3 separate regions of the Homo sapiens genome follow, and regions 1 and 3 are each linked to region 2. Evidence: fine-mapped QTL for protein levels in blood plasma. A gene starts in region 2. Each other region holds a variant in brackets. All regions are shown on one strand. Distances are from middle to middle.

Region 1 (9,958 bases), 19 kb after region 2:
TTGTTGCACAGGTTGGAGTGCAGTGATGCGATCTCAGCTCACTGCAACCTCTGCCTCCTGGGTTCAAGCGATTCTCCTGTCTTAGCCTCCTGAGTAGCTGGGATTACAGACACACACCACTGCACCCAGCTAATTTTTGTATTTTTAGTAGAGACAGGGTTTTACCATGTTGGCCAGGCTGGCCTCGAGCTCTTGGCCTCAAGTGATCTGCCCACCTCAGCCTCCCAAAGTGCTGGGATTATAGGCGTGAGCCACCATACCTGGCCTGAATCCAATTCTTGAACTGGACACCACTAGATGTGGGATAAAGTCCTATCTTATGCCAAGTTTCCTTGGGAGATGAATGTAAACTGGGGGCGGGGGCAATGTCTAGACCCTGGAAAAGGCAGACGAAGATGCTTGTCTTGGGTGGACTGAGGTCTGGGGGACAGCGGAGCCCCTGGAGGGCATCTGATACAGGCACAGGGCAGGAGGGAGAGTTGACCTTTAGGATCTATTCAAGCAGGCTGGGGATGGATGAGATGCGGATGCATGAGAGGAAAGGGTCTAAACGCCTCTCAGATTTCTGGCCTGCTGTTTGTTCACAGTTACTCTTCCTCCTTGATGACTTCATTTTAATCTAGAACAGAGCTGTCCAACAAAACTTTCTGCAATGATTGAAATGTTCTATTCTATACTTTCCAACATGGTAACCACTAGCTACATGTGGCTTTTTATTTTTATGTTTTGAGAGAGGGTCTTGCCCTGTTGCCCAGGCTAGGGCGCAGTGGTGCAGTCGTGGCTCACTGCAGCCTCAACCCCCTGAGATCAACCAGTCCTCTTGCCTCAGCCTCCAGAGTAGCTGGGACTACAGGTGCACACTACCATGCCTGGCTAATCTTTGCATTTTTTGTAGAGATGGGGTCTCGATATATTGCCCGGGCTGGTCTTGAACTCCTGGGCTCAGGCGATCCTCCCACCTTGGCCTCCCAAGGTGCTGAGATTACAGACATGAACCACTGTGCCCAGCCTACATGTATTAATAGTTATTGAATGCTTGAAATGCGGCTAGTGTAGCTGAAGAACTGAATTTTGAATTTTCTTTCATTTTAATTAATTTAAATTTAAATAGCCACACATAACAGCCACTGTACCGGACAGCACAGTTCTAGAATGTTACCCACTTAGCATTTTAATTCAACATGTGTTGTTCTGTCTTGAGCTATAATTGGGTACGTGTCTGTTTCCTTCACTAGCCTGTTATATTCTTGAGGTCAGGGAATAGATTTAATTCCTGGTTGAATCACTTCCTCCCAAGCTCTTGCACAATGCCATGCAAATCATGGGCATTCAGTAAACCCAGCCTGTGTTAGATGGTCAGCTGAGAGGGCAGCTTGGACATGTCTGCCAAGGCTCCTTCCAATTCAAGGAGATTATAGGCTTCTTGCCTCTCAGAACAGCTGCTCACCTGATGAGGATTAAAGAAAAAGGAAAACAGTGTTTACAGAATGCTTTTGTCAAAAGGCCCTGCGCTGGGTGGAGCATAAGGACAAAACCCAGGCACATAGTCCCAGAGCTTCAGAGGTCCGCTGTCAGCACACAAGCATGAGAGCACGGAGGTGAAACAAAAATATAACAGGACCCACTTATTTGTTTATTTATTCACCATGCCCAGCTATTTTTTTGTTTTTGTTTTTGTTTTTTTGAGATGGAGTCTCGCTCTGTCGCCAGGCTGGAGTGCAGTGGCATGATCTCGGCTTAGCACAACCTCCGACTCCCTGGTTCAAGCGATTCTCCTGCCTCAGCCTCCCAAGTAGCTGGGATTACAGGCACGTGCCACCACGCCCAGCTAATTTTTGTATTTTTAGTAGAGCCAGGGTTTCACCATGTTGGCTAGGATGGTCTCCAATCTCCCGACCTCGTGATCCACCCGCCTCGGCCTCCCAAAGTGCTGGGATTACAGGTGTGAGCCACTGTGCCCGGCCAATTTTGGTATTTTTACTAGAGACAGGGATTTGCCATGTTGGCCAGGCTGGTCTCGAACCCCTGACTTCAAGTGATCCACCCTCCTCGGCCTCCTAAAGTGCTGGGATTACAGGCGTGAGCCACTGCGCCCAGCCAAAAGGCCCAATTTGAAACAAATATAAGGAATGGTGAACTTGCATGTGACTACTCTCTCCTTAAAGGACCTACCACAGAGCTAAGAGGCCTGTGGAGGGATAAAAATTATTATTATTATTATTACCACAGGGTCTCACTCTGTCACCCAGGCTAGAGTGCAGTGGTGCGATCATGGCTTACTGCAGCCTTGACTTCCTGGACTCAGGTGATCCTCCTACCTCAGTCTCTTGAGCAGCTGCTGGGACTACAGGCGAACACCACCATGCCTGGCTAATTTTTGTGTTTTTGGTAGAGATGGGGCTTCACCATGTTGTCCAGGATGGTCTTGAATTCCTAGGCTCAAGCAATCTACCCACCTTGGCCTCCCAAAGTGCTGGGATGACAGGTGTGAGCCACCACAAGCAAACAAGGGATACAATTTTTTTCTTTTTCTTTTTTTTTTTGAGACGGAGTCTCACTCTGTTGCTCAGGCTGGAGTGCAGTGGCGCGATCTTGGCTCACCACAACCTCTGCCTCCTGAGTTCAAGCAATTCTCCTGCCTCAGCCTCCCGAGTAGCTGGGACTACAGGTGCACCCCACCACGCCCAGCTAATTTTTGTATTTTTAGTAGAGATGGGGTTTCACCATGTTGGCCAGGCTGGTCTTGAACTCCTGACCTCAGGTGATCCACCTGCCTTGGCCTCCCAAAGTGTTGGGATTACAGGCGTGAGCCACCGCGCCCGGCCGGGATACAAATTATTCACAAGGATGTGTCCTCAGGCTTCCTGTCCTCCTCTACGTCCTGCGTGTAGCCTGGTTTCTCTTTTCTGGCCTCCCTCCTCCTGTAAAGGGGGATGTGTTCTTGTTGGGGAGAAGGTCAGGTGTAGGTGGATGATGTGGGGTTGAGGAAGGGACGCTGAAGAGCGGCTAGTCCTCAGGGACATGGAGGGAAGGAAAATGGTCGCCGAATTACCATGGAAATTGGCTCATATTTGCAGGATTTGGGAAAGGCAAGTAAAGAGCTTGAGTCATGCTGGAACTGTCTTCAGTTGCCTTGCCTGCGATGAGGCCTGGAGACTGGGCCACGTGGATCTGGATTCACACAGGTTTCACGTCACTGGCCAAGATGTGCTCAGGGCACTTCCCTGGAACTGCCTAACACATTCTTCCAGATAACCTTGCTGGGACACAGCCTCCCTACTGTAGGGGGATTTTTGCTGGAAATCACTAACAGTGATCTGGAGCCAAGTTTGGTTAGATGTTGGGCAATACTGTCTTTGCCCAAAAGTGACTAAAATGATCATCATGTTATGACGCTGGCTTTGCTGTGGGATTTGGTAAAATGCTTCTTAAGATCTTTTCAGGAAGGAAAGATTTCAACCTGGGTTTGCTCTGACTCCGAACAGCAGGCTTTTGAGGAGAGCCACCACCGCCAAAGTGGCCTTGTCCCTACCAGCCTGAGCCTGGGGCTCTCTGCTGGGGTTTCCCAGCCCCACCCCACCCCAGTGACAGCATCGTTCCTAACCCAGCTGCATCCTGGACCCCGTCTCTTCTGACCAAGGTGTGGAAAATCCCTTTGCTAGACTAGAAAGAGATAGACCAACATAAAAACAAATGCTGGTGCTTAGCTAGGGGCAATTTTGCCCCTGAGGAACAGGCATATTACCATGTTTGGAGACATTTTTTGTTGTCATAACTAGAGGTAGTGGTGCTAATGGCATCTGGTGGGGACAGTCCAGGGTTACTGCTAAGCATCCTACAGCACACAGGCTAGCCCCCCACCACAGGGGATTATCTAGGCCCAAACCTCAATGGTGCCAGGGTTGGCTGGCGCGGTGGCAAACGCCCGTAATCCCAGCACTTTGGGAGGCCGAGGCAGATGGATCACCTGAGGTCAGGAGTAGTTCAAGACCAGCCTGGCCAACATGGCGAAACCCTGTCTCTACTAAAAATACAAAAATTAGCCGGGTGTGGAGGCACACGCATATAATCTCAGTTACTAGGGAGACTGAGGCAGGAGAATAACTTGAACCTGGGAGGCGGAGGTTGCAGTGAGCCAAGATCGCGCCACTTCACTCCAGCCTGGGTGACAGAGCGAGACTCTGTCTCAAAATAAAATAAAACAAAAAAACCCAGCAATCCTTCAATGGTGCCAGGGTTGAGAAACCACAGAGTAGAATAATCCAAGGTAGCTTTTTAATGCGTTTTGTAGTTACTTTCCAACCTCTCTTAAATAAATATGTGTGTGTGTGTGTATATATATATATATGTAAATATGTATATATGTATATATATGTAAACATGTGTATGTGTATATATAAAATTTGGGATTCAGGAAAAAAATATTTAAAGAAAGGAAAATCTCTTTTCCTTTTAACTGGTACAAGTTTGCCACTTAAAAGGAAAAAACAGAATAATTATTAAGGCACCAAGGAGAAACAGAGGAAATACAGAAATGGAGAAATAAACAAATTTAGAGAATTCAGTCTGACAAATATTTGCTGAGCACCAGTGATTCAGGGTGCTGCAGGATGCTTGGCTAGGGGACGTCCCAGCCCTGGAGGAGGTCACCCACGGTCTGCTGAGTAGACTCTCATAGGCTAGACAAACTCTCTGCAGTAGGAGACAATAGGAAAAATAAAATTATGGCGCCCACCTATAATCCCAGTACTTTGGGAGGCCAAGGCAGGTGAATTGCTTGAGCTCAGGAGTTTGAGACGAGCCGGGGAAACACGGTGAAACCGTGTCTTTACGAAAAAACAACAAAAAAATTTAGCTGGGCGTGGTGGCGCATGCCTGTAGTCCCAGCTGCTTGAGAGGTTGAGGTGGGCAGATGGCCTGAGCCGGGAGGGTTGAGGCTACAGGGAGGCAGAGTGAGACCCTGTATCAAAAAAGAAAACTAAGACCGAGGATGGAGAATTTTTCCCAGTTGAGGGGCCTGGGAAGGCTTCAGGAAGACTATGAGACCTTGAGTTGGGTGTTGAAGACAAGGCGGGCAGGATTTTATTGTCATCTGTTGTCAGCCTGTCTGAGTCCAAATGCAGCCCCCCTGCTCAAAAATCAGTCTTGGCCCGGCGTGGAGGATCACGCCTGTAATCCCAGCACTTTGGGAGGCTGAGGTGGGCAGATCACTTGAGCCCGGGAGTTTGAGACCAGCCTGGGCAACATGGTGAAAATTTGTCTCTACAAAAAAAAAAAAAAAAAAAAAAAATTAGCTGGGTGTGGTAGTGCATACCTGCAGTCCCTTCTACTTGTGAGGCTGAGGTGGGAGGATGGCTCAAGTCCAGGAGGCAGAGGCTGCAGTGAGCCGAGATTGCACCACTGCACTCACTCACAGAGTGAGATCCTGTCAAAAAAAAAAATCAGAATTTTAGGCTAATTAGCTTCTCCAAGTCTCTGTTTTCTCATTTACATATCTGCTACAGTCATGAATGTATATTGTCTCCCTAGAGGATTGTGGGGCCATCCGTGATGGGATAAAAATTATTAATGAGGAAATGTTCTCAAACCTAACTAGACGGATAGCTGGAGAGAGAACTTAGATGTGTATTTTATAAATTACCATGTGCACATACACCCTTTTTTTGGCAAGTGGTGGGAGGTATCAGAGATTCTGGGTGGGGGCTGTGGCCTAAGCAGCTCCTTGGTCATTGGGACGGTCTCTGGGCCCTGACGCATGGGAGGGACAGCTGGCTGGTAGGACACTTGGAGGTGGGGGCTCCAGCTAAGCCACTGCAGAGATGGGGCGTGGGCCATGCAAGGTGGTGAAGACTGGGTGTAGGTATGTGTGACAGGGGAGGAGAGAGGTTCGGGGGGGCCAGCCTTGCTCTCCTCACTGTCACCTCGGAGGCTCTATCGGGAGAGCCCTGGACTCCAGATCTTCCCCTGCAATGTTGACTTGGCGTGAGGGCTCTGCGGGGAGCCCTTCAGACTTCACTCAAGAGCCCACTAAAGTCCTGGGCCGTGGCTCACGCCTGGAATCCCAGCACCTCGGGAGGCCGAGGTGGGTGGATCACTTGAGGTCAGAAGTTCCAGACCAGCCTGGCCAACGTGGTGAAACCCCGTCTCTACTAAAAATACAAAAATTAGCTGGGCGTGGTGGCGCATGCTTGTAATCCCAGCTGCTTGGGAGGCTGAGGCAGGAGAATCACTTGAACCTAGGAGGCGGAGTGAGCCGAGATCACACTGCTGCACTCCAGCCTGGGTGACAGAGCAAGACTCCATCTCAAAAAAAAAAAAAAAAAGCCCGCTACAGACATCCCCCGCAGAGGCTCCAAAGCCCCCGAGCGACGGTGTGTGTGGAAGAAATTCCCGGCTTCCCAAGATGAGTAAGACGTCGCGGTCATCTTGGTGTGTAATATGGGCAGAGAAAGAAATCTGT[C/CTT]AGGATTTTAACTTTCCTTAGACATAAGAGGAGTTAGAGGAGAAAGAGTCTGGCCCAGGGCCTTTGGAGATGAGCCCTTGCTTTCACTGTTTGCCTCTCAAGAAAGAGCTGGAGTCCACGCCGGCCTGGCAGCCAGGAGTGAGGGACGCTTCTCACCCACCTTCTCACTGGGCGGCTGTGTGTTGAATGAGGTGTTCCCACGGGGCCTGCGACATTTCGAGTTTTACATTTTGGTGAACAAAGAGGGGTTAGAGTTGACCACAGTCGCTGTGCCCCTCGGTGGGGAGGTTTTCGGCCCACCTGAAACGGCTGGGCCTGCGACTCCTGATGCCAGATTCCTGGGCGAGGGGAGCAAGCCGCTCACAGGGTGGCAGGTGGGCGTTCGCCTAATGTGGGCCCAAGTGCCGCCCCTCGCGGGCTCCCTGGACTCCCCACCTCCGTGAGCACCCCTTTCTAGAAGGACTGTCCCAATACTGGATGGAGGGGGTCCTGCCCCAAGCTTTTGCCAAAAGCTCTGGGAGTGAGACGTGGGGTTGGCTTCCTGGAAGGATGACTGCTCTGTGGGGCTGGGCTTGGCACATCCCTAAAGTAGATGCCAAGGACACCTGCTGATGCGCCGCCTGGTGGCCAGAAAGCAGCTTGCAGCCACCTTCCTACCCACCTACCCACCGGTGAAGGACCTGGTCATTGAGCCAGCTTTGCTTTGAGTTAAGGGATGATGATCATTCAAAGCTTGCTTGGGATTTTTCTTACTGTCCTAAGAGGGGTGGTATACAATTGTCTGTGGGGCCAGCGGCTGATGGACTCTCCTTCCCGAGAGGCTGGGTGGGCAGAGACAGCACCTTGCTCAGCAACCCCTCAACACCAGCCTGACTGGCTGAGGCTCTGGGGGCAGAGTGTGTGCGCACATGTGAAGGTGTGTGTACATGTGAGCGCATGTGTGCATGAGTGGATGTGCATGCATGTGAATGTGTTGAGAGTATGCGGGCGTGCACGTGAGTGTGCATGTGATGTGGGTATATGTGTGCATGTTAATGTGTGCACGTGTGTTGAAAGTGTGCATGTGTGGATTGCATGTATGCGAATGTGCATGTGTGTGGATTGCATGTATATGAATGTGTGTGCATGTGTGGGTTGCATGTGTGTGTGGGTTGCATGTGTGTATGTGTGTGCATGTGTGCATGGATTGCATGTATGTGAATGTGTGTGCATGTTGGATTGCATGTGAGTGCATGTGATGGTATATGTGTGTGAGTGCATGTAAAAGTGTGCATGTGTGTGGATTGCATGTGTGTGTGAATCTGTGTGCATGTGATATGGGTATATGTATGCATGTGTGTGCATGTGTGTTGAGAGTGTGCATGTGATTTGGGTATGTGTGCATGTGAGTTGTGCATGTGTGTTGAGTGCATGTGAGCATGTGGATTGCATGTGTGAGTGCATGTGTGTGGACTGTGTATGTGCATGTATGTGCATGTGAGTGTGAGTGTATGTGTGTTGACTGTGTGCATGTGAGCGTGTGGATTCCATGTGTGTTAAGAGTGTGCATATGGGTGCGTGGATTGCATGAGTGTGCATGTGATGTGGGTATATGTATGCATGTGTGTAGGTTTCATTGTTGAGACTGTGCATGTGTATTGTGTGTACATGTGTGTGGATTACATGTGTGTGGATTGCATGTGTGTTGGGTGCATGTGAATGTGTGGGTTGCATGTGAGTGTATGTGACTGTGTGTGCATGTGTGGATTGCATGTGTGTTGAGTGTGTGCATGTGTGGGGGTTGCATGTATGTGAATGTGTGTGCATGTGCGTGTGTGCACGTGAGTGCGTCGTGAGTGCGTGTATGCATGCATGGGTGTGTGAGAGTGATTGTCCTCCCAGAAGCTGTGTAACTGCAGCATTTCCCAGTGGCGTGAGGCTGGGGAAGCACCTCCGATTTCCAGGCTGTTTCTCTCCCCAATTTTCAGGCTGTTTCTCTGTGCAGCTCCTTCCTAACTCGGTGCCTTCCCTGTGTGTTTCTTTCCCACCAGGGCCCGGCAGGAAGATGGGCTCCCGTGGACAGGGACTCTTGCTGGCGTACTGCCTGCTCCTTGCCTTTGCCTCTGGCCTGGTCCTGAGTCGTGTGCCCCATGTCCAGGGGGAACAGCAGGAGTGGGAGGGGACTGAGGAGCTGCCGTCGCCTCCGGACCATGCCGAGAGGTGAGGGGCCACGAGGGTGTAATAGCAGGAGCTCTGGCTCTGGCCAGGCTGAGCCTGGGCCTTGGGGCCCCTGGGGGAGCTAGTTCACTGTGAGATGTGAAGGCAAGAAAGCTGAAGCTGAGCCGTGGCCCTGCTGGAGGCTGGTCCTGCAGGACAGACGAGCGATTCCTCCTTTCAGTGGCTTGGGCACCTCACCTGAAACTGCGGACAGTGATCCAGCCTCACCACGAGCCTAAAGGAGTGGGGTCTGCAAGTGGCTTTGCAGCTGCCTCCTTAAGAGCAGACCAAGCTCCCAACCTGCCCTCCAGTTTGTCTTTCCATTCTCACTTTGTCCGCTGAGAATATCTGCTGGGGACCTAGGCACCACTTGGAGGCAGGGAGAAGTGGAGCATGGCCTTAGGAGAGATGCTGGACCAAGAGCTGGTGTCCATGGCCCACGCGTCTTATCACACTGCAGGACAGGAGAGGACAGCGGAGACTGGGTGGGCCAAGTGTCGGCTTCCCTTGAAAGGTTGTGAAGGACTCTGGATGGCCTTCGTGTCTACGACCTGCAATGACAGAGAGACTCCAGCCGACCTGGGACATTTCCTAGGGAAGCCGAGTGCTTCATCCAACTGCCATGTACCCAGAGTGAGGTCCTGGAGACCCGGCGACAGCTCAAGCCTGGCTTGGAGTCTCTTCATTATTTTGAGCGTTGGGCTGACTTGATACTTGAGGCTTCAGACTAACTTCAGTGTACGATGGGATTGGACAGGATTTGAGGTTGAGTCACATCATTCCGTTCTTTCTTCCTCTCCCTCCTCTTTCTTTGATTGAGCCCCTCCTATCAGTCAGGCCATCCCCCAGGCACGGGGGGACACATGAGTGGCACAGTCCTGGCCTCCAGGAGCTCTGAGGCCGAGAGGGAGATAGACACATGAGAGACAGGGCAGCGTGGTGGGCTTTGTAGTAGGGGTGTACCCATGACGCTGGAGGCAGGGCCAGGAGAGGGAGGAGCGGGTCCCAGGAAGACTGAAAGGAGTGAACTAGGTCTTGAAGGACACCTGCGGGCCTCCCAGGTGCAGAAGGAGGGGAAAGCTACCTGGTAGCCAGAATGGGGTGTGCAAAGGCATGGCTGGTGGTGTTTGTTGGGCTGGTGGGTGGTTTGGGATGGTGAGACCCAGTGCTGGAGGCTGGAGGCTGGAGGACAGTAGGGCAGTTGAGCCTGGAGGCAGCTGGGTCTAGTTGGGGAGGGTCTCACCTGAACTCAATCCTACAAAGAACAAGAGGAATCATGGGAAAGCTTGAATTGGACGGTGT
Region 2 (9,710 bases):
GAATCAAAGTTGACTTATAGAGCTAATAAAAGGCCCTTGGAAAAACTGGCTTTATACCTTGTCTATGCAGTCCCTGTACAGGGTTCCTGCCATGTGGTAAGTAAAGAATGTCACTTTGTGACAGGTTCAGGAGCCCTAAGTTATATTGGGACTTTGAGACGAGAGAAATTTACCTAACTCATACAGGTATTTGAAGGCATAAACCCATGGCTGGGCAAGGCTTTAAAAAGTCAAATATAAGATTCCTTATGGAACAAGATTCCATCAAAGCCATTTTTTTGTAAAAAGAGCCTATATGGTGAATAATTATTCTTACTGCACTTCATGCAAATGATCATGCCAAGTATAATAAGACTAAGGTTTATTTTTCAAACAAATAAGTCCTACCATTATTTGTTTTTAATAAAAATGGGGACTGGAGAGAGAAAAATTAGGTTTCAAAAACTATGGTACACCTGTTATTAGATTCTAGTCTCATTCATTGTTTTTTTTTTTTTTTTCTGCAGTCTAGACTGACCCTGCTTATTTCTGTGAACCAACCAGTGATCTCTGGCCATGGCTCAGAACAAATAATAGGGATGGGTAACATAAGAAATATCTGGATCAGTATTCTAATTCAGGGCACATATTGGAATCTGTTAGCAACCCCATATCAGCTTAGTTCCAACAGTTGCCCAGTTGATGGAATGCCTTATTTAATTTATTTGGGATAAAGTATTAATCCATTCTCACACTGCTATAGAGAAATACCCAAGACTGGGTAACTTATAAAGCAACAAGATTTAATGGCTCACGGTTCTGCAGGCTGTACAGGAAGCATGGCAGCATCTGCTTCTGGGGAGGCCTCAGGGAGCTTTTAGTCATGGCCTAAGGCAAAGGGGGAGAGGCCTCTTACATGACAGGAGCAGGAGAAAGAGAGAGAGCGAGGAGGTACCATACACTTTTAAACAACCAGATCTCACGAGAACTCACCCACTATCATGACCAAGGGGGATGGGGCCAAACCATTCATGAGAAACTGCCCCAGTGATCCAGTCACCTCCCATCAGGCCCTACCTCCAACTTTGGGGACTATAATCGGACATGAGATTTGGTGGGGACACAGATGCAAACCATATCAGATAATTTTACTTATTTTGCTTTACTATTGTGGAATATATTCCTGTTGTACTCGTTGTGTAGGAATGCAGAATAAGCTTACTCGCCGTTTTCTTAAATTGAACATTTGCCAGTCTTCCAGATATCACCTTTTGTTGGAACTCAGAGTTATGAATGGCCGTCAGTATGCTGATGCTTTCTGACTGAGTTCCTCTCTACCCTGAATACAAAAGACCTTAATAGTTAGATGAGAATATCATTACTCCTATTTAGCCTGAAGAAGCTACAGAAGGGGAATCTTCCTACCTCTACAACCCTTAGGATTAGTGGTCCTCTTGTAAAAAGGAGGGGGGAAATATGTCAGAGGCATTGGAAGCAGAGCAACTTTAACTTGAATAGGGGCTGGGTAAAATGATGCTGAGACCTGCTGGGCCACATTCCTGGGAGGTTAAGGCATTTTAACCTCCCGGGATCTGAGATGAGATAGGAGGTCACAAGATACAGGCCACAATGACCCTGCTCATATAACAGGATGCAGTATAAAGGCTGGCCAAAACCTGCCAAAACCAAGATGGCAACAAAAGTGACCTCTAGTTGTCCCAACTGCTCATTATATGCTAATTATAATACATTAGCATGCTAAAAAAACACTCCCACCAGCACCGTGGCAGTTTACAAAGGCCATGGGAACGTCTGGAAGTTACCCTGTATGGCCTATGACGGGGAGAAACCCTCAATTACAAGAAATTCTTGCCCCTTTCCCAGAAAGCTCATGAATAATCCACCCCTTGTTTAGCATATGATCAAGACATAACCATAAAAATAGCCAACCAGCAGCCTTTGGGGGTGCTCTGCCTATGGAATAGCCATTTTTCTTTTCTTTTCTTTCTTTTTTTTTTTTTTTTTTTTGGCACAGTGTTGCTCTATTGCCCAGGTTGGAGTGCAATGGCGCAATCTTGGCTCTCTGCAACCTCCATCTCCCACGTTCAAGTGATTCTCATGCCACAGCCTTCTGAGTAGCTGGGATTACAGGCATGCTACTTGAACAGGGGCTGGGTAAAATAAGGCTGAGACCTGCTGGGCTGTATTCCTGGGAGGTTAGGCAGGAATAGGGGTAAATAGGGGTAATTATATTTTTAGTAGAGATGGGGGTTCACCATGTTGGCCAGGGTGGTCTTGAACTGATCTCAGGTGGTCTGCCTGTCTCGGCCTTCTGAAGTGTTGGCATTACAGGCATGAGCCACTGCGTCCGGCCTCCTTTACTCTCTTGATAAACTTGCTTGTATTTTACCCTGTGGACTTATCCCAAATTCTTTCTTGCTCAAGATCAAAGAACCCTCTCTTGGGGTCTGGTTTGGGACCCTTTCCAGTAACAGCTCCACAGACATCATCAGATGGCTTAATTTTGCCAATCTGATGGTAATCAGTGTCTTCTCCTTGCCTGATTACTGTGAGGTTGTATATCTTTTCTTACACTTTTTGGCTGTTTACGTTTCTTTTTCTGTGGATTCCCCATCATCTTGTGTGTTTTTAGGAATTGATCCATCCCATCCCCATTGATATACGTGCAATGCCAATTTTGTCATAGATCAAGTTTTCATACACACATGGGTCTTTGTCGGGTGGGCCTTCTATCATGTTGAACTAATATACTTGATCACATCTGTTCCAATACCAGTATCTTCATTATTATGTCTTTATAATAAGCCTTCCTATGATGTAGGACAAGTCCCCTCCTACCTCACCCACCTTCAACCTTCTGGGATTTTGAATGGAATTGCTTGGAATCTATAGCTTAATTGAGCGAGAACTGAGTTTTTTTTTTTTTTTAATGATATTGAGTCTTCTATCTAAGACCACGCTTTGCTTTTCCATTTCTTTGGATTTTCTTTAGTGCTTTTCAGTAAGGGTTTGTAATTTTCACTTCACAATATAGCTTGGAGATTGTTCCAGATCACATATAGAGAGCTGTTTATTCTCTAAAGAGCTACACGGTGTTCCACTGTGTGGAATTTATTTTACCAGGCCCCTAATGATGTCCTTTGAGGGTATCTGTGCTTTTTTTATACTACGGCAATGCTTCAGAGGATATCCTTGAACTTACTTATTTGAGCACCCTTCTAAGTTTATCTGTAGGAGAAACTCCTAGAAGAAAGATTAGGGGGTCAAAGGGTATTTGCATTCTGTGAGCGAACACACCCTCCCTTCCAGAGAGGCTGTACCATAAAATCACTTTCCTTAAGGTCAACAAATACAATCAGGCTTTCATTGGATTTTCATTCTCCTTGTCTTCTTTGCATCCTCAGAGACTTCACCATAGACTCCTTTTGGAAATTCTCTTTAGTTTCTGTGGCTCTGCATAAAGGACAAGACATTCTTTATTGAATCATTCATTCATATGTTGACATGCATTTACTCACTCATTTCATAGTTAAGTGCTTGGAACTGGGGAGTCCACCAGGGGGCCCTCCCATCTTATTTATCAAGTAAAATATTGCCTAGTCGATCAGTATATGCCTGTCTCCATGTAACTGAAAACATTCATTGCCAAAACAGGAGAGTAAATATTCAGAGGTGAGGAAACTGAGGCATAGGGAAATTAAATGGCTTGATAGAGTTGCAAGGCACACGTGTACATGGCCTCAGGGGAGACTTCTGTGGAAAGGCATGGCTTCCTGGAAGAGGGAACGCCCTTACCCTCCTGGTTTTCTGCAGGTGTGAGGACCATAAAGAAACCTATTCACCTGGTGTGTCCTTGCAGCTGCCAGTCCTGATCTCCACCTGTCCCAAGCTGCTCAGAACGTGGCAGCGCCATCCAGGAGCCACGAGCATGGGCCAGTGGCCAGGGAGGCTGGATCTGTCTGCCAAGTTTCCACTTTTCCATCTTAGCAGCTTCTCCGAAGCTCTGTGGAGACTCTCCCCACTCCCACCCCTTGGCAGTGGGACGTCACCATCGGAGCCGGCCGGTCGCTACCCTTGGGAACAGAATTCAAAGTTTGCAATACCAATCTCTGCCCTTGTGGGATGACTGGGCAGCCCGACCCAAAATAGCTGGGAAAGGCGGGATGTTAGGGCCGCGGTGGGAAAACTCACAGTGCTGCTAATGACATGCTGTGCTTATCTGGAACCGAGTGTCTTGCAGACTTTAACTGAGATCACATTGCTTTTTCCAGCAATAAGTAAACAGACCCAGCGAGTGGTGGTGACAGGCCCAGGGAGAGAGAAAGAATTACCAAATCAGGGAGGGCACAGAACGTGCTGCCTTCCCTGCCAGGGGTTCCAGGAAATATTTCTTCCCATTCTAGGATCTACCCTTGACTAAGAATATGGGATGATTTGGGAATATTCAGGAAGCCTTTAGGGGTTTTGACCCAGACACCTTGTGTAGATGTGAGCTCCTAGGGAGTTTTAGGATGGGTTTGTGGGGGCTAAGAGAGAGACCTTGGGGAGGGGACTCAGTCTTTCTGGAAGTTGGCTTTGACTTCTGACCCATAATCTCAGGGCTGATGAAATCCCCCAGGCACTGTGGCTGATTTTTATTTTTGATTTCTGTTGTTGTTGCCCAACAGGAAAGGATTTTGCCAAAGGGAAAACACTCTGCCTCTTGTTGCTTGGGGGCACCTAAGGCTGAGAAGGAAGAAAATCAGCCACTCTGCAAGGACATCCCTTGCTTGCCAAAGTTTCCATCTTTCCTACTTAAAATTACAAAGCAGAAGTGAAGTTGATGACAAAGAGCATTAGGAACCTGGCATGCTCTCTATTTTGGATTTTTTTTTTCACTTTATTGAGGACAAGCTTGTATTCTCTGGGAGCTGGCCTTGTGAGTCTTTGCCCATTGCCTGCTGCCTTGAGTTGTGAGCCATGATGGTGGCACCTAAGACATGTGCTCAGACCTCAACTCCTATTCTTTGGAAGTTCCCATGCCTCCGAGCCTTGGGTCTCACACAAGATCTTGGGAAACCCCAGGCTCTCTTTGTTACCGTTTGATACCACTCCTCCCTATCCCCAGTTTCTGCCTCAAGGAAAATGAGTAATCCCTTTTCTAATCTCCTCCTTCCCTCCTCTTCCCAAGAGGATGGAAGGAAGATTATACTTGTAATAATGGTAGTTGCAATGAACAATGTGTCTGTTCCACCAACCTTTTTATTAATCATGTGAGAAGCTACAGGTTCACAATCACTTCTCCAAAATCCCTGAAATGCAAAAAATCTGAAACCTTAGTTTTTCCCTAAAGTTGGCACACACAAATTTGACAGAACAATGTGGCTTGAACTATCCTGAGACTATGGATGCCTTCATCCCACTGCCGAATATTCAAGTGTTTAACGAAGGGGCGCTGCCCGAAGCCCACTGGGTAAGATGCTTTGTGGGATATTTGCATCTGACTCTGAACATATCTGACCTCCTTGGTTCCAGATAAGAGACCCTGGACCTATCTCTGCTTTGTAGATAAGGAAGCTAAGGCCCACTGAAGTTTGGTAGCATCCCCAGGCTGCCTCAAGGTAGGACAGAGCCGGGACAAGACCTCCTAGTAGGATGAGCCAGGTGCACCTGGAAGAGATGACCAGCCTTCAGCTGTCTTTCTAGAACTTTGCACTATATTGGGCCTCTGAGTTCTGTCTTGGAATTGTGTTAAAGATAACTGTTTTCCAGTTCTTCAACACCAAAGCCATCTTGGATGGGGTAAAGAGAAAGAATAAATATTCCATCATCCACAACTTTTTTTTTTTTTTTTGAGATGGGGGTCTTGCTCTGTTGCCCAGGCTGGAATGCAATGCCATGATTAGGGCTCACTGCAGCCTTGACCTCCTGGGCTCAAGGGATCCTCTCACCTCAGCCTCCTGAGTAGCTGGGATTACAGGTGTGTGCTGCCAAGCCCAGCTAATTGTTTTATATTTTGTAGAGACAAGGTCTCACTATGTTGCCCAGGCTGGTTTTAAACTCCTGGGCTCAAGTGATCCTCCCGCCTCAGCCTCCCAAAGTGCTGGGATTAAAGGTGTGAGCCACCACACCCAGCCCATCATCTGCATCTCTTTCTCTTTCAAGCTGTGTGTCCCGCTTTGTGAATTCTGGTATCTGCCCACGACTTTCCTGAGTCTGAGGCTCCCAGGCAGGGCAACAAGAAGCCTTCTCATTGCACTGAGGGATTTCCTAGCTCGTAAGAGTTCTAGAAAGTCCCAGATTCTCTGAAGTATGGACGAAGGTCTCATAAGGGCTGCAAAAAATGCTGTTGTTTTCTCTGGTATCCCTGCACCAAGGGCTATTTGAGGACAGAGTAACTAAGGAAAGGTCAGTCCGTGTGCTAAGCCTTGCTCCTGGTGACTGGGAAACTTCCTCATGTCACTTACAGGAATGGAGACAAGCTTATCTCTGGCTTTTCCTGTATCAATAAGCAACCAGGGATGTAGGTTTTGCCAAGCCTCAGACACGTATGCCAAGAACACAAGCAACCCCTGATCTTCTAAGCCTAGCGGAGGCTGCATCTCTAGTTGGTTAAGTAGTGTTGACTTCATATCCCCATCGTGTCCTCTGAGTTCCCCCTGGGTGCTGGAGGCCTGGCAGCCTTTCTCCCTGTACTCACAGGAGGGGTTGACGCATGCAGTCAGGGCCTCTGTGGAGTGGCTTTTGGGCGCCTCGCCTGCCCGGAAGCCTCCCCTTCTGTTCTCATCTCCATTTGTCCTCAGCTCTACCTGAGTGCTGGCCTCGCCCAGCCTGGGGCAAGGCAGTGGGCATTGTGCTTGCACCCTCTTCTTCCTCTCCTTTTTGATTCTTTTCATCTGTCCAGTTGTTGGTGCGGCGGATGGGAGGACACTCCAGGCAGGGAAAGGTGAGGCCTCTTAGTTTTGCTCTGAATGTCCCAACCAGCATCCCCATTTTCGCATCTCCTGTTTGTCCAGAGACAGACCCTCACAGGAGGGATAACAAAACAAAAAAATCCAGCTGCAACATCGAGGTGAGGGGCAGCTCGGAGAGAACAGGGCAGAGGGGGGAAAAAAGAAGCAAAAAAAGGGGGAATGCTGTTATCATCAGAGCTGGCTTCTGCTTCTCTGGCCAAATCCTTCCCCTGCTAGTGATATGGTAAGTTTCCAGAGCAAGCTGGGCTGACGCAGAGTCTAGGGATGGAGACTGGGTCCCAACCAGGGCCGGCTCTGGAGCAGCCTGGATCAGGGATCAGGATGGGAGGGCAGCCTACGGGCCTTGTTCAGAAAAAATATTTGTGTATGACTGAGAAAATGTCAGGTTTTCATATCAAGGAATGAGAGGCCTGATAGAGACTGAGGAGTGCTTCCAGCCATCCTGGGCTCACCACTGTACTCGTGCTGTTCTCTAGAAAATGGAAATCTTCCCGGCAGGGGCTCCTTCCTAACCTTTAGATCACAGAGCTCTCAAGACTCTGAACAAAACAGTGGACCATCACCTTCCAAAGGTGATGCGCGCGCGCGCACACACACACACACACACACACACACACACACAGTTTGGCATTTTGTTATAGGGGGTTCACAGATTCCCCCAAACCTGTCTGAGTCCCCGATAATGCACAGGGCGTCTCAGGTCTGCCACTGTTTGGAGACCTGACCCCTCAGGGTTGGCCACAGCGGATCCCGGAGGCCTTGGGGCTCATCCCTCTGCTACCAAGTGACTAGGAGCGCTCAGCCTTGCTGGGCACCCCCATCCTGCGGGGGGCATTCTCGTCCGGGGCTCGCAGCCCCTCCGCCTCTGGACGGACCTCCAGACTCACGGAATCTGCCCCACCCCCACTCTCAGCCTGGCGGGCTCCCCAGGGGGCCGGGAGGAGGCGGCCGCTGGATTTCCCTGAGGCGCGGCGCGGGGCACACACGGTTAATCCTCCGCGGCTGCTGTTTGGACGAAAAGCGCTGGGGGTGTTGGAGGCTCCTCGCTGCTCACATCTGGCTGGGCTTCGCTCCTTGCGCGTCTGTCCCACTTTCTCCCTCTCTTCCTTTACTTTCGAGAAACCGCGCTTCCGCTTCTGGTCGCAGAGACCTCGGAGACCGCGCCGGGGAGACGGAGGTGCTGTGGGTGGGGGGGACCTGTGGCTGCTCGTACCGCCCCCCACCCTCCTCTTCTGCACTGCCGTCCTCCGGAAGACCTTTTCCCCTGCTCTGTTTCCTTCACCGAGTCTGTGCATCGCCCCGGACCTGGCCGGGAGGAGGCTTGGCCGGCGGGAGATGCTCTAGGGGCGGCGCGGGAGGAGCGGCCGGCGGGACGGAGGTAGGTGGCCGGGCCGGGGGACCCAGCGCTGCCCCGCCCCATCCTCGTGGCTTCAGCCTGGTGGCCAGGGCGGGGATGGCAGACACCTGGGCCGGGACGGACGGAGAGCGCCGTGGGAGGGGCCGGTTGGCGGTGGCGGCGCAGGGGCGGAAAGACCCGGGTTTTCGGGGGCAGCCCTGGCGTCTGGCTCTGGCTCAGCCCCCGCCATAGGCGCCTTTGCGCGGGGGTCATAATGGTCCCGGGTCTCCCTGACTGTGGAGGAGCGGGGCTTTTCTGCACGTGGATACTAACGGGAGGAATTGCACCTTCCCCCTAGTTTTTTGTGGGGTGTTTATCTTGTTTCACTGTTCTCTGGTGCCTTTCTGAGGGTGTGGAAGGAAGAGGAATGGTACTAATGCCCGCGGCTGCACCTGGCGGGGATGCCCTCACCCCACTCCTTATCACTGGGACCACCTGACCGCCGGGTCTGTCCAGTCCTGTCTGTGGCCAACCTGGACCTTCACGGAATAGGAAGCGCTGACTTTGGCCCCCCGCATCTGACAGCCTTGGTGTCCTGGAGGGGGTCCAGCTTGGGCAGGAAAAAACGGTGTTGCTTCCCCGGGGCCCTCCTGGGAAGCGAAGCTGCCTGTGCCGCTGGGAGTGGCCCCCCCGGCCTGGGGCTGGAGCCTCTGAGCCGCCCTGGGGCTTCTGGACCTCGCAGGTGGACCCACCGCCCACCACCCAGCCCTCCATGGCTTCTCCACCGGTGCAGGTGTGGTCCCCACTGTTAGCCCGGGCCTCGCGGGGCCAATACCCGGGCCACACTCTTCCAGCCCCAGAAAGCCAGATTATCTTCTCTGGACCCTCCGCGTGCTTCAGGCACCCTTGGGCCGACTCATCCCTGCTTGGGAGGGAGGGAGGAAGCCGCCCCCCTCTGTGAGGTGTTCCTGACTCTTCTACCCCACCTAGTTTCTAGGAAAGGAGGCAACATGACGTGCTGGGAGCTTTCTGGTCCTGAGCTTTGAACATGAGAAATGCCGTGAGAAACTGTTTTCTCCACCGCTGGCCACTTCACAGCCCCAGGGGAGCATGTGATGTCCTTACAGGCTGCCCGGCCTCTGCTTTTTATAGTGCAGGAAAGTACACACTCCCTGGCAGGCCGTGCAGCCATGAACAGCCACAGATAGACGCACTTGGCTGTGGTGTGTGCTGCAGGGAGCGGGAGGACATGGGAGGACGTGCTCCAGGAGGCCTCTCCAGCACCTGCCAACCGGGGAGGAGGGAACCAAGACAGGGAGATGGGAGCCGAGGTCTGAGGACAAGCAGAAGCTTCCCCACCCTCCCTCTTAGAGCTGCAGAGCTGGAGAGGCCCCTAGAGTCCACCCAACAACAACAGTGGC
Region 3 (9,958 bases), 30 kb after region 2:
CCTGGATAGTCTGGGGTGCAGAAGTGGGAGCAGCATTAGATGAGGAGCTGGCCCATCCAGGGGGACTTTGCTGCCCCCGTGGGTCTGCGCAGCTCTACAGCCTGGGCAAGAAGAGCCACAAGCCAGAGCACATGTGATGCCATGAGGGGCCGCGAGGTGGCAGCCAGGAGCCGCCGCCGTCCATCCTGCCTGCGGGCTTGTCCTTCCAATCAGGTTGGAAACATAAGAGTCTCTCCAGCGGCTACAGCTGAGGGGAATCCTAAAGATCCAGTTGAACCTTCTTATTTGCAGACGAGTCAGCTTCATATGTTATTTTCTAGCATCACGGATATACGATAGGGAGTCCCGGCATTGTCTTGTGTCACCCAAAGACCCTCTCTTAGAAGTGTGGATTTCTCCCGAGCAGCCCCCATCTTGCGTGGCACTCAATTGATCGCTGCGTGTGTTTCCAGGACTGTCATTGCCTTTAACAGAGGGCAGGGGGCTCGTTCGGTAGTGAGGATCCCAGAGTGGGCCGTGAGCCCACCAGCGTGAACACAGAGCCTTGTGGGTCCAGGTGAGAGAGTGAGAAGGCAGGTCAGGCATGCCAGAACCACTGGCAGCAGGAGAGAGCAGCGTTTCCAGGCCTGAGAGTGGCTGACTTTCACTGTGATTCTTTATTCCCTCAGGGCTGAAGAACAACATGAAAAATACAGGCCCAGTCAGGACCAGGGGCTCCCTGCTTCCCGGTGCTTGCGCTGCTGTGACCCCGGTACCTCCATGTACCCGGCGACCGCCGTGCCCCAGATCAACATCACTATCTTGAAAGGTCAGATGGCTGCAAAGACAAGCACGGGGTGGCCGGGCTGCTCTGTGCTGATCCGGAGGAAGGGATGGAGTCGTTAGGGTGGGGCTAGGCGAGAGCAGAATGGCTCCCTCGGGACAGGGAGCAGAGGCAGGCAGGCTGTCATCTAGAGGGGAAGGCACAGGAAATTCTGATTTTGAGGCTCTGGCCCCTCTCCAAGAGGAGGGGTTGGAAAGGGGCCCACAGGACCAAGAGCAGGAGAGGGAGCCCAGAGGCTACTCGGGGTCTCGTCCCTCCAGTTGTATGTGGACGCCAGGCTTCTAGGCCCTTTGCTTTGGGGCTTGGTCCCCCAGCCTGCTTTCTGAAATGCCACCTGCTCGCTCCGGTCCTGCACACGGCAGATAACCCTGCACAGCCCCGTGAAATCGAACTGGAAACACTTGCAGCCTAGATCCCCAGCTGGCCCCGACATCTGGAGTTCATTTGCTCAGAGCGAGCCGTCGGTCTGGCCGCAGAGCCCATTGCTTTTGGACGAACCCGTATGTTCCATTTTCTTTTTTTTCTTTTCTTTTTTTTTTTTTTTACCAGGGCTTTCCAGAAGGAAAAAAAAATTATTGCTTCTGGGCGAAAATAGAACCATCCTTGAGGTTGAGTCTGTTTGCTTGGCCATTTTGGGAATCACAATACCTCTGTGCCAGGCTGGGACGCCGCCCGTGGCAGGGGGCTGGGGGCAGGAGTGAAGCTTCTGCCAGGTCAGGGCTGTGAGGACGAATCAGGACAGCGCCAGGGACCGGAGAGTGAGCAGCCAAGGCTCAGGACACTACCGGATTGCTCCATTAACAGCACGCGTTTTCCCATCCCTTTTAGGGGAGAAGGGTGACCGCGGAGATCGAGGCCTCCAAGGGAAATATGGCAAAACAGGCTCAGCAGGGGCCAGGGGCCACACTGGACCCAAAGGGCAGAAGGGCTCCATGGGGGCCCCTGGGGAGCGGTGCAAGAGCCACTACGCCGCCTTTTCGGTGGGCCGGAAGAAGCCCATGCACAGCAACCACTACTACCAGACGGTGATCTTCGACACGGAGTTCGTGAACCTCTACGACCACTTCAACATGTTCACCGGCAAGTTCTACTGCTACGTGCCCGGCCTCTACTTCTTCAGCCTCAACGTGCACACCTGGAACCAGAAGGAGACCTACCTGCACATCATGAAGAACGAGGAGGAGGTGGTGATCTTGTTCGCGCAGGTGGGCGACCGCAGCATCATGCAAAGCCAGAGCCTGATGCTGGAGCTGCGAGAGCAGGACCAGGTGTGGGTACGCCTCTACAAGGGCGAACGTGAGAACGCCATCTTCAGCGAGGAGCTGGACACCTACATCACCTTCAGTGGCTACCTGGTCAAGCACGCCACCGAGCCCTAGCTGGCCGGCCACCTCCTTTCCTCTCGCCACCTTCCACCCCTGCGCTGTGCTGACCCCACCGCCTCTTCCCCGATCCCTGGACTCCGACTCCCTGGCTTTGGCATTCAGTGAGACGCCCTGCACACACAGAAAGCCAAAGCGATCGGTGCTCCCAGATCCCGCAGCCTCTGGAGAGAGCTGACGGCAGATGAAATCACCAGGGCGGGGCACCCGCGAGAACCCTCTGGGACCTTCCGCGGCCCTCTCTGCACACATCCTCAAGTGACCCCGCACGGCGAGACGCGGGTGGCGGCAGGGCGTCCCAGGGTGCGGCACCGCGGCTCCAGTCCTTGGAAATAATTAGGCAAATTCTAAAGGTCTCAAAAGGAGCAAAGTAAACCGTGGAGGACAAAGAAAAGGGTTGTTATTTTTGTCTTTCCAGCCAGCCTGCTGGCTCCCAAGAGAGAGGCCTTTTCAGTTGAGACTCTGCTTAAGAGAAGATCCAAAGTTAAAGCTCTGGGGTCAGGGGAGGGGCCGGGGGCAGGAAACTACCTCTGGCTTAATTCTTTTAAGCCACGTAGGAACTTTCTTGAGGGATAGGTGGACCCTGACATCCCTGTGGCCTTGCCCAAGGGCTCTGCTGGTCTTTCTGAGTCACAGCTGCGAGGTGATGGGGGCTGGGGCCCCAGGCGTCAGCCTCCCAGAGGGACAGCTGAGCCCCCTGCCTTGGCTCCAGGTTGGTAGAAGCAGCCGAAGGGCTCCTGACAGTGGCCAGGGACCCCTGGGTCCCCCAGGCCTGCAGATGTTTCTATGAGGGGCAGAGCTCCTGGTACATCCATGTGTGGCTCTGCTCCACCCCTGTGCCACCCCAGAGCCCTGGGGGGTGGTCTCCATGCCTGCCACCCTGGCATCGGCTTTCTGTGCCGCCTCCCACACAAATCAGCCCCAGAAGGCCCCGGGGCCTTGGCTTCTGTTTTTTATAAAACACCTCAAGCAGCACTGCAGTCTCCCATCTCCTCGTGGGCTAAGCATCACCGCTTCCACGTGTGTTGTGTTGGTTGGCAGCAAGGCTGATCCAGACCCCTTCTGCCCCCACTGCCCTCATCCAGGCCTCTGACCAGTAGCCTGAGAGGGGCTTTTTCTAGGCTTCAGAGCAGGGGAGAGCTGGAAGGGGCTAGAAAGCTCCCGCTTGTCTGTTTCTCAGGCTCCTGTGAGCCTCAGTCCTGAGACCAGAGTCAAGAGGAAGTACACGTCCCAATCACCCGTGTCAGGATTCACTCTCAGGAGCTGGGTGGCAGGAGAGGCAATAGCCCCTGTGGCAATTGCAGGACCAGCTGGAGCAGGGTTGCGGTGTCTCC[A/G]CGGTGCTCTCGCCCTGCCCATGGCCACCCCAGACTCTGATCTCCAGGAACCCCATAGCCCCTCTCCACCTCACCCCATGTTGATGCCCAGGGTCACTCTTGCTACCCGCTGGGCCCCCAAACCCCCGCTGCCTCTCTTCCTTCCCCCCATCCCCCACCTGGTTTTGACTAATCCTGCTTCCCTCTCTGGGCCTGGCTGCCGGGATCTGGGGTCCCTAAGTCCCTCTCTTTAAAGAACTTCTGCGGGTCAGACTCTGAAGCCGAGTTGCTGTGGGCGTGCCCGGAAGCAGAGCGCCACACTCGCTGCTTAAGCTCCCCCAGCTCTTTCCAGAAAACATTAAACTCAGAATTGTGTTTTCAGCATCCTGCCTCGTCAGTTTGCTCATTAAACTGAATCCTTTTCGTCTTCTCCTCTCCACCCAAGGCCCACTCCTGCCTGGGAGGCCCTCAGCTTCATACCTGGGGACATTGGTACCCAGCAGGTGCATGCTGGACCCTGAGTTGCCTCGCTCCTCCAGGGGGTGCAGCCTCCCATGGGTGGGGCAGCGACAGCGTGTCTCAGCTGCAGCTGAACGTGTGCCTGAGTCGGGCGCCTGGGGCCTGGGTGGGTCTGGGGACTTGTGAGAGGTGGGTGGGAGGCAGGGGCTTGATCTCCTGAGCAGGACCGCACTGTCCCCCGGGAGGGAGAGAAACTGTGGAGGTAGCAGCTTGGCCATGGCTCTGCAGCCTGGACACTATTCCTTTCCTAGGGCTGCCGTGGAAACTGGGGTTGGGGCGTGGGTGGCATAAGCCTCTAGCGGAGGGTCCTTCCTGCCCCTTCCAGCTATTGGTAGCCCCAGGCACTCCTTGGCTTGCGGCTGCATCTCCTCAGGTTCTGCTTCCGTCTTCATGTGGCCTTCCCCTCCGTGTGTCTCAAATCTTCCTCTCCCTTCCCTTACTATAACACCTGTTGCTGGATTTAGAGAATCAGGTAAATATTTAGGGCCCACTGTAAATCCAGGATGGTCTTCTCTCTAGATCCTAACTTAATTACGTCTGCAAAGACTATTTCCAAATAAGGTGACATTCACAGATAGCAGAGGTGAGGACTTGGACATATCTTTTTTTGGGGGATACAGTTCAACCTCTACCATGGCTTGCAGCTTGAATACACCCATCAGCAGCCCCCTCTGTTCTCCAGTGGTGCAGAGCAGATGTTCCTTCTTCTCTCCATCGCTTGCCAACTGGGTTAACAGCCAGGCACTGCATCCAGCTGCCAGCGGGGAGCACAGAAGCTACCTTGCTCTCTCTGGTGCCAGCAGGCTGCAAACAGCTGATCTCCTTCCTCTGCCCGCTCCTGGGGTGAGGCCATGTGTTCATGCTTGGCCTTGTGCTAGAGCCAGACTGGATCAAGGGGACCCTGCAATCCTGCTCTGTACGGGAGAAGGAGCAGGCTCCTACCTCCGCGGAGTTCAGGCCACTCAGCAGAGGATGTGCTTCCCAGGCAGTGGGGAGCAAGGGCTAAGTGCCCTTCCCAGAGGTGCCTGGAGGGAACCAGCCAGCTTCATACAGGTGCCCAATGACAACCCTCTCTGGAGACGGAGTCACGTGGACCATATAATACCTGTTTCTCTGCTGGCCAAATTCCCATGGGAAAAGAGGCAGGGTCTGCTCCAGTCCGCTCCATGCTCCTTTTAACATCCCTCTATCTTTGGGGTTTCCCCACCCCCAATATTTTCAGGCTGGCATTTATGCTCCACCCATTCTTCCTCCAAATATTTCCCTTGCTCCTGCTTTGTGGCAGATCGTGTGCTAGGCACTGGAGGCATAAGGACAGATAAGATATGGTCCTTGCCTTCCTGAGGACTTTCCCAGGGTTTCGACTGCCGTCTGACAGAGGTCAGCCTTCTCAGAAGAGCTGCACGCTTGGTACCAAGTGATCTGCTCCACCTGATGCCTCCCCAAGCAGTTGATCTTGACGGGATCCTCTCCCGGTTTCCTGTCCCAAGCTGGTGAGAAATTGGCTAGCCATCTCACTAAAGGGTCTAGAAAACTCAGTTGCAATACAAATATCAGTGTTTTAGCAAAAGGACTTAGTAATGGCTGATGACTCAGCCCAACGAAATAACTGCCTATGTTAGGACTTTCAGGAGCTTTTGTAGCCAGGGATGGGGATGAGGAGGTCATGGCCCACACTAGTCCTCAATGATAATTTTCTGTAAGGTCCACTATGGGAACGCAGTGGCGTGATGGCAAGCTGATTTTATTGGGCCATAATGACTAGCATAAGATGAGACATTGTTGCCCAGATTATTAAAAAAAAATAGAATGTAACAGAAAATAATAAATAATGCAAGATATCGATGTCCCAACATGCAAAAGAATGGAGTTGGGCCCCTACCTCACACCATATACGAAAATTAGGCCTTGGATCAAAGGCCTAAATATTAGAGCCAAAACTACAAAATTCTTAGAAGAAAGCCCAGGCATACATCTTCATGACCTTGGATTAGGTGATGATTTCTTAGGTATGATATCAAAGGTACAAGCAACAAAAGAAAAAAATAGATCAACTGCACATCATCAAACTTGTAAATTTCTGTGTTTCAAAGGACACCATCAAGTAAGTGAAAAGACAACTCACAGAATGGGAGAAAATATTTGCCATCATATATCTGATAAGGGACTTATATCTAGAATATATAAAGAACTCTTGCAACTCAATAATAAAAAGACAAATAATCTAATTAAAAATGGGCAAAGCAGCCCACACTTCTCCAGAGGAGATATACAAGTAACCAATACACACATGAACAGGTGTAATCATCAGAGAAATGCAAGTCAAAACCACAGTGAGACACAACTCTACAACCACCAATACACACATGAACAGGTGTATCATCAGGGAAACGCAAATCAAAACCACAGTGAGACAACTCTACAACCAATGGGAAGGCTGTTGTCAAGAAGACAGATGATAACATGTGTTGCTGAGGATATGGAGCTGCTGGAACTGCTGTCAGGAATACAAAATGGTGAGTCCCCTTTAGAAGACAGCCTGGCAGTTCCTCAAAATGTTAAGCATAGAGCTACAGCTGACCCAGCCATAACACTTCTAGGTATATACCCAAAAGACATGAAAATATATGTCTATGAAAAGCTTATAGATAGATGTTCATAGCAGCATTATTAGTAATAACAAAGAAGCAGGTACAACCCAAGTGCCCACTCAGCTGATGAACAGGTAAACAAATGCAGTGTGTCTATACAAAGCAGGCAGATCACAAGGTCAGGAGTTCGAGACCAGCCTGGCCAACATGGTGAAGCCCTGTTTCTACTAAAAAAATACAAAAATTAGCCAGGCGTAGTGGTGTGTGCCTGTAATCCCAGCTACTTGGGAGTCTGAGGCAGGAGAATTGCTTGAACCTGGGAGGCAGAGGTTGCAGTGAGCGGAGATCGTGCCACTGCATTCCAGAGCCTGGGTGACAGAGCAAGACTCACTCCATCTCAAAAAAAAAAAAAAAAAAAAAAAAAGGAATGAAGTGCTATTACCTACTACAACATTGGTAAACCTCAGAAACATTATCAAAAGGGAAAGAAGCCAGACAGAAAAGGCCATACGTTGCATGATTCCATTTATATGAAATGACCAGAATAAGCAAATCTAAACTAAAAATTACTGAATTCTACACTTTAAATGGATGATTCTATGGTATGTAAATAATATCTCAATAAACAGCAGTTATCAAAACAAGTAACACAAAACCAAAAAATTAGGCTGCCGCAGCCTTCTCTATTCAAGGCTGGAAAGTCCTGGAGCTCCAGAGTCATGACCTTCAGAGTTGGTCCCATTGTTCTGGGCTTGGCTTACGATGGCACAGGGGCCAAGGGCCAGTGAGATGGGATGGGAGTGTCAGGGTTAGTTTTTCCAAGGACATTGTTGAACAAGCATTTTTGAATCAACTGGTGGGTGAGATCACAGAGTCAGCAGGAGGCTGATGCAGGTGCCAGGGGAAGCATTCCACAAGGAATGACTAATTGAGGACCATGTCTTCCTCTCTAAAGTCCTTCCACAGCTGGGGCAGGGATGGGAAACTATGGTGACCTCAAGTGCTCCCATATCCTGCCCTTCCTAGGGCAGAATGGAGTAAGCCCATTTCTCATTATGCAGATGGCCAGGCAAGGACAAGGAATTTCTACTTCAGACACTTTTATAGATAGGATTAGAAGTCCATATGCTCTGGAAAATTTGGAAACCTCCTTGCCTAAAGACAGGAAATGTTCCAACCGCTCAATTGACATAGCCACTAAGTTAGTTCTCCAAGCAACTTGAGATCCTGCTTACTGAGATATTCCACAAGAATGTATTAAATGCCTACCACATGAGGGAAAAAACTCTTACCATTTAGAGTTATCACAATCAGAATATAAAATAACTATGCTTGCTACATTCAGGGAGGTAAAAAAAAAGGATTGATATTTGTGGCAGAAAACTTTAATGATGGTGATGATGGTGGTGATAATAAAGAAGCAAATGGAAGCTCTAGAAGTGAAAAACAAAACAAATGAATTTAAGAGCCTGGGCAACATGGCAAAATCCCATCTTTACAAAAAAATACAAAAGCTAGCCGGGCATCGTGGCACATGCCTGTAGTCCCAGCTACTTGGGTGGCTGAGGCAGGAGGACCACTTGAAACTGGGAGGTGGAAGCTGCAGTGAGCCATGCTTGCACCACTGCATTCCAGCCTGGGGTACAGAGTGGGACCCTGTCTCAGAAAAAAAAAAAAAGAAAAAGAAAAAAAAAAATAAACTAAGAATTTGGTGGATAAATATACCATCATACTGTACACAGCTGAAAAGAAAAATCAGTGAATTAGAAGAGAAATCAGAAGAAAATATTTAGAAAGAAGTATGGAAAGACAAAAGGATGAAAACACAGAACAAAAGTACAGAAGTGACAATAAGAAGGCCCAATACACGTGCAACTGGAGTCCCAGGAGGCAACATGAGAGAGAAAAGGCAACAGAAATATTGGAAGATAAAATAGCTGAGAAAAATCACCCAATTGATCAGTCTCTAAGGTACAGATTCAAGAAACTCAGTGAATCCCAAGCAAGACAAATAAAACCAAGGTCACAGCCAGCATGGCATATCATGGTACAACTACTAAAAACCAAAGACCAAGAGAAAGTCTTAAAAGCAGAGGGGAAAATATTTTCTTTCACAGGAGCAATAATAAGTATCACAACTGACCTCTGCTGTGGTTTGGATTTGTGTCCTCACCCAAGCATGTCAAATTGTAATTCCCAATGTTGGAGATGGGGCCTGGTGGGAGGTGATTGGGTCATGGGGGTGGTTCCCCCTTGAGTCCCCCTGTTCTTGTGATAGAGTTCACATGAGATCTGGTTGTGTCAAAATGTCTTCCCCGTCTCTCTCTTCCTCCTGCTCTGGCCATGCAAGACCAGCCTGCTTCCCCTTTGCCTTCTGCCATGATTGAAAGTTTCCTGAGGCCTCTCCAGAAGCCATCATGCTTCCTCTACAGCCTGAAGAACTGTGAGCCAATTAAACCTCTTTTCTTTGTAAATTGCCCAGTCTCAGGCAGTTCTTTATAGCAACAAGAGAATGAACAAATACAAGCAAAAGAGCAGAAGCCACAAGATAGCGGAATGGAATGTTTAAAGGGCTAGAAATAACTGTCCATCTCAGTTCTATTTCCAATTAAAATATTTTTAAAAAGATATTTTCAAACAAACAAAAATTGGGAGACTCTGTCACTGGAAAACCTGCACTGAGAGAAAATGAATGCAGAGGAAAGGTGAGAGATGCAGGGAGGAATCCAGGCCTAGAATAATGGTGAATTTGGTGGCGATTCTCAACGGATGTCGCCAGTAAGAAAATAATAATCTTGGAAACCAGTCGGAAAATTCTCAGAATGTTAAACATAGAGTTTCCACATGACTCAGTACTTCCACTAAGTGTATACCCAAGAGAAATAAGGACAAGCTCCCACACAAAAGCTTGTACTCCAATGTTCCTAGTAGTATTCATAATAGCCAAAAAATGGAAGCAACCCAAATGTCCATCAGTGGGTAACGGAATAAATAAAATGTGGTGTGTCCATATGATGGGCTATTATTTGGCTATAAAAGGAATGAATTAGTGATGCATGCTACAGCATGGAATGAACCTCAAAACATTACACTGTGTGCGAGAAACCAGACATGAAGACCACATATTGTGGGATTCCATTTATATGAAATCTCCAGGGGAGGCACATCCATGGAGACAGAAAGCAGACGAGAAGTTTCCAAGGCTGCTTGTGTGTGGTGGGGGGATTAGAATACGACTGCTAGTTGGTTTCTTTTTGGGGAGACAAACTGTTTGTTTGTTTGTTTTTTTGAGATGGAGTCTTGCACTGTTGCCCAGGCTGGAGGGCAGTG

What was found. PIP is the posterior inclusion probability: the model's chance that the variant is causal. Protein levels are from antibody-based Olink assays in UK Biobank. Linkage for the fine-mapping came from a reference panel and not from the study's own genotypes, which makes the PIPs less certain.
Region 1: its variant is fine-mapped to the plasma level of the C1QTNF1 protein (UK Biobank, PIP above 0.99).
Region 3: its variant is fine-mapped to the plasma level of the C1QTNF1 protein (UK Biobank, PIP above 0.99).

The regions. Positions count from the first base shown.
Region 1 is chr17:79,035,465-79,045,422 of GRCh38, forward strand. C1QTNF1 (C1q and TNF related 1) reads left to right here. Exons shown (of 4, transcript NM_030968.5): 2 at 8,491-8,659. The coding sequence starts at 8,505. Among named protein-coding and RNA genes, the nearest start is that of C1QTNF1-AS1, 13 kb to the left of the region's middle. RefSeq lists an enhancer at 8,501-9,001. The variant C/CTT (reference allele first, on the strand shown) is at 6,461.
Region 2 is chr17:79,016,164-79,025,873 of GRCh38, forward strand. It overlaps C1QTNF1 (C1q and TNF related 1), which reads left to right and starts at 8,006. Exons shown (of 4, transcript NM_030968.5): 1 at 8,006-8,331. C1QTNF1-AS1 (C1QTNF1 antisense RNA 1) reads right to left here. Exons shown (of 3, transcript NR_040019.1): 2 at 3,843-4,073; 3 at 3,046-3,453. RefSeq lists a silencer at 8,338-8,427.
Region 3 is chr17:79,045,887-79,055,844 of GRCh38, forward strand. C1QTNF1 (C1q and TNF related 1) reads left to right here. Exons shown (of 4, transcript NM_030968.5): 3 at 669-808; 4 at 1,652-3,902. The coding sequence ends at 2,202. Among named protein-coding and RNA genes, the nearest start is that of C1QTNF1-AS1, 23 kb to the left of the region's middle. RefSeq lists an enhancer at 768-1,967. The variant A/G (reference allele first, on the strand shown) is at 3,540.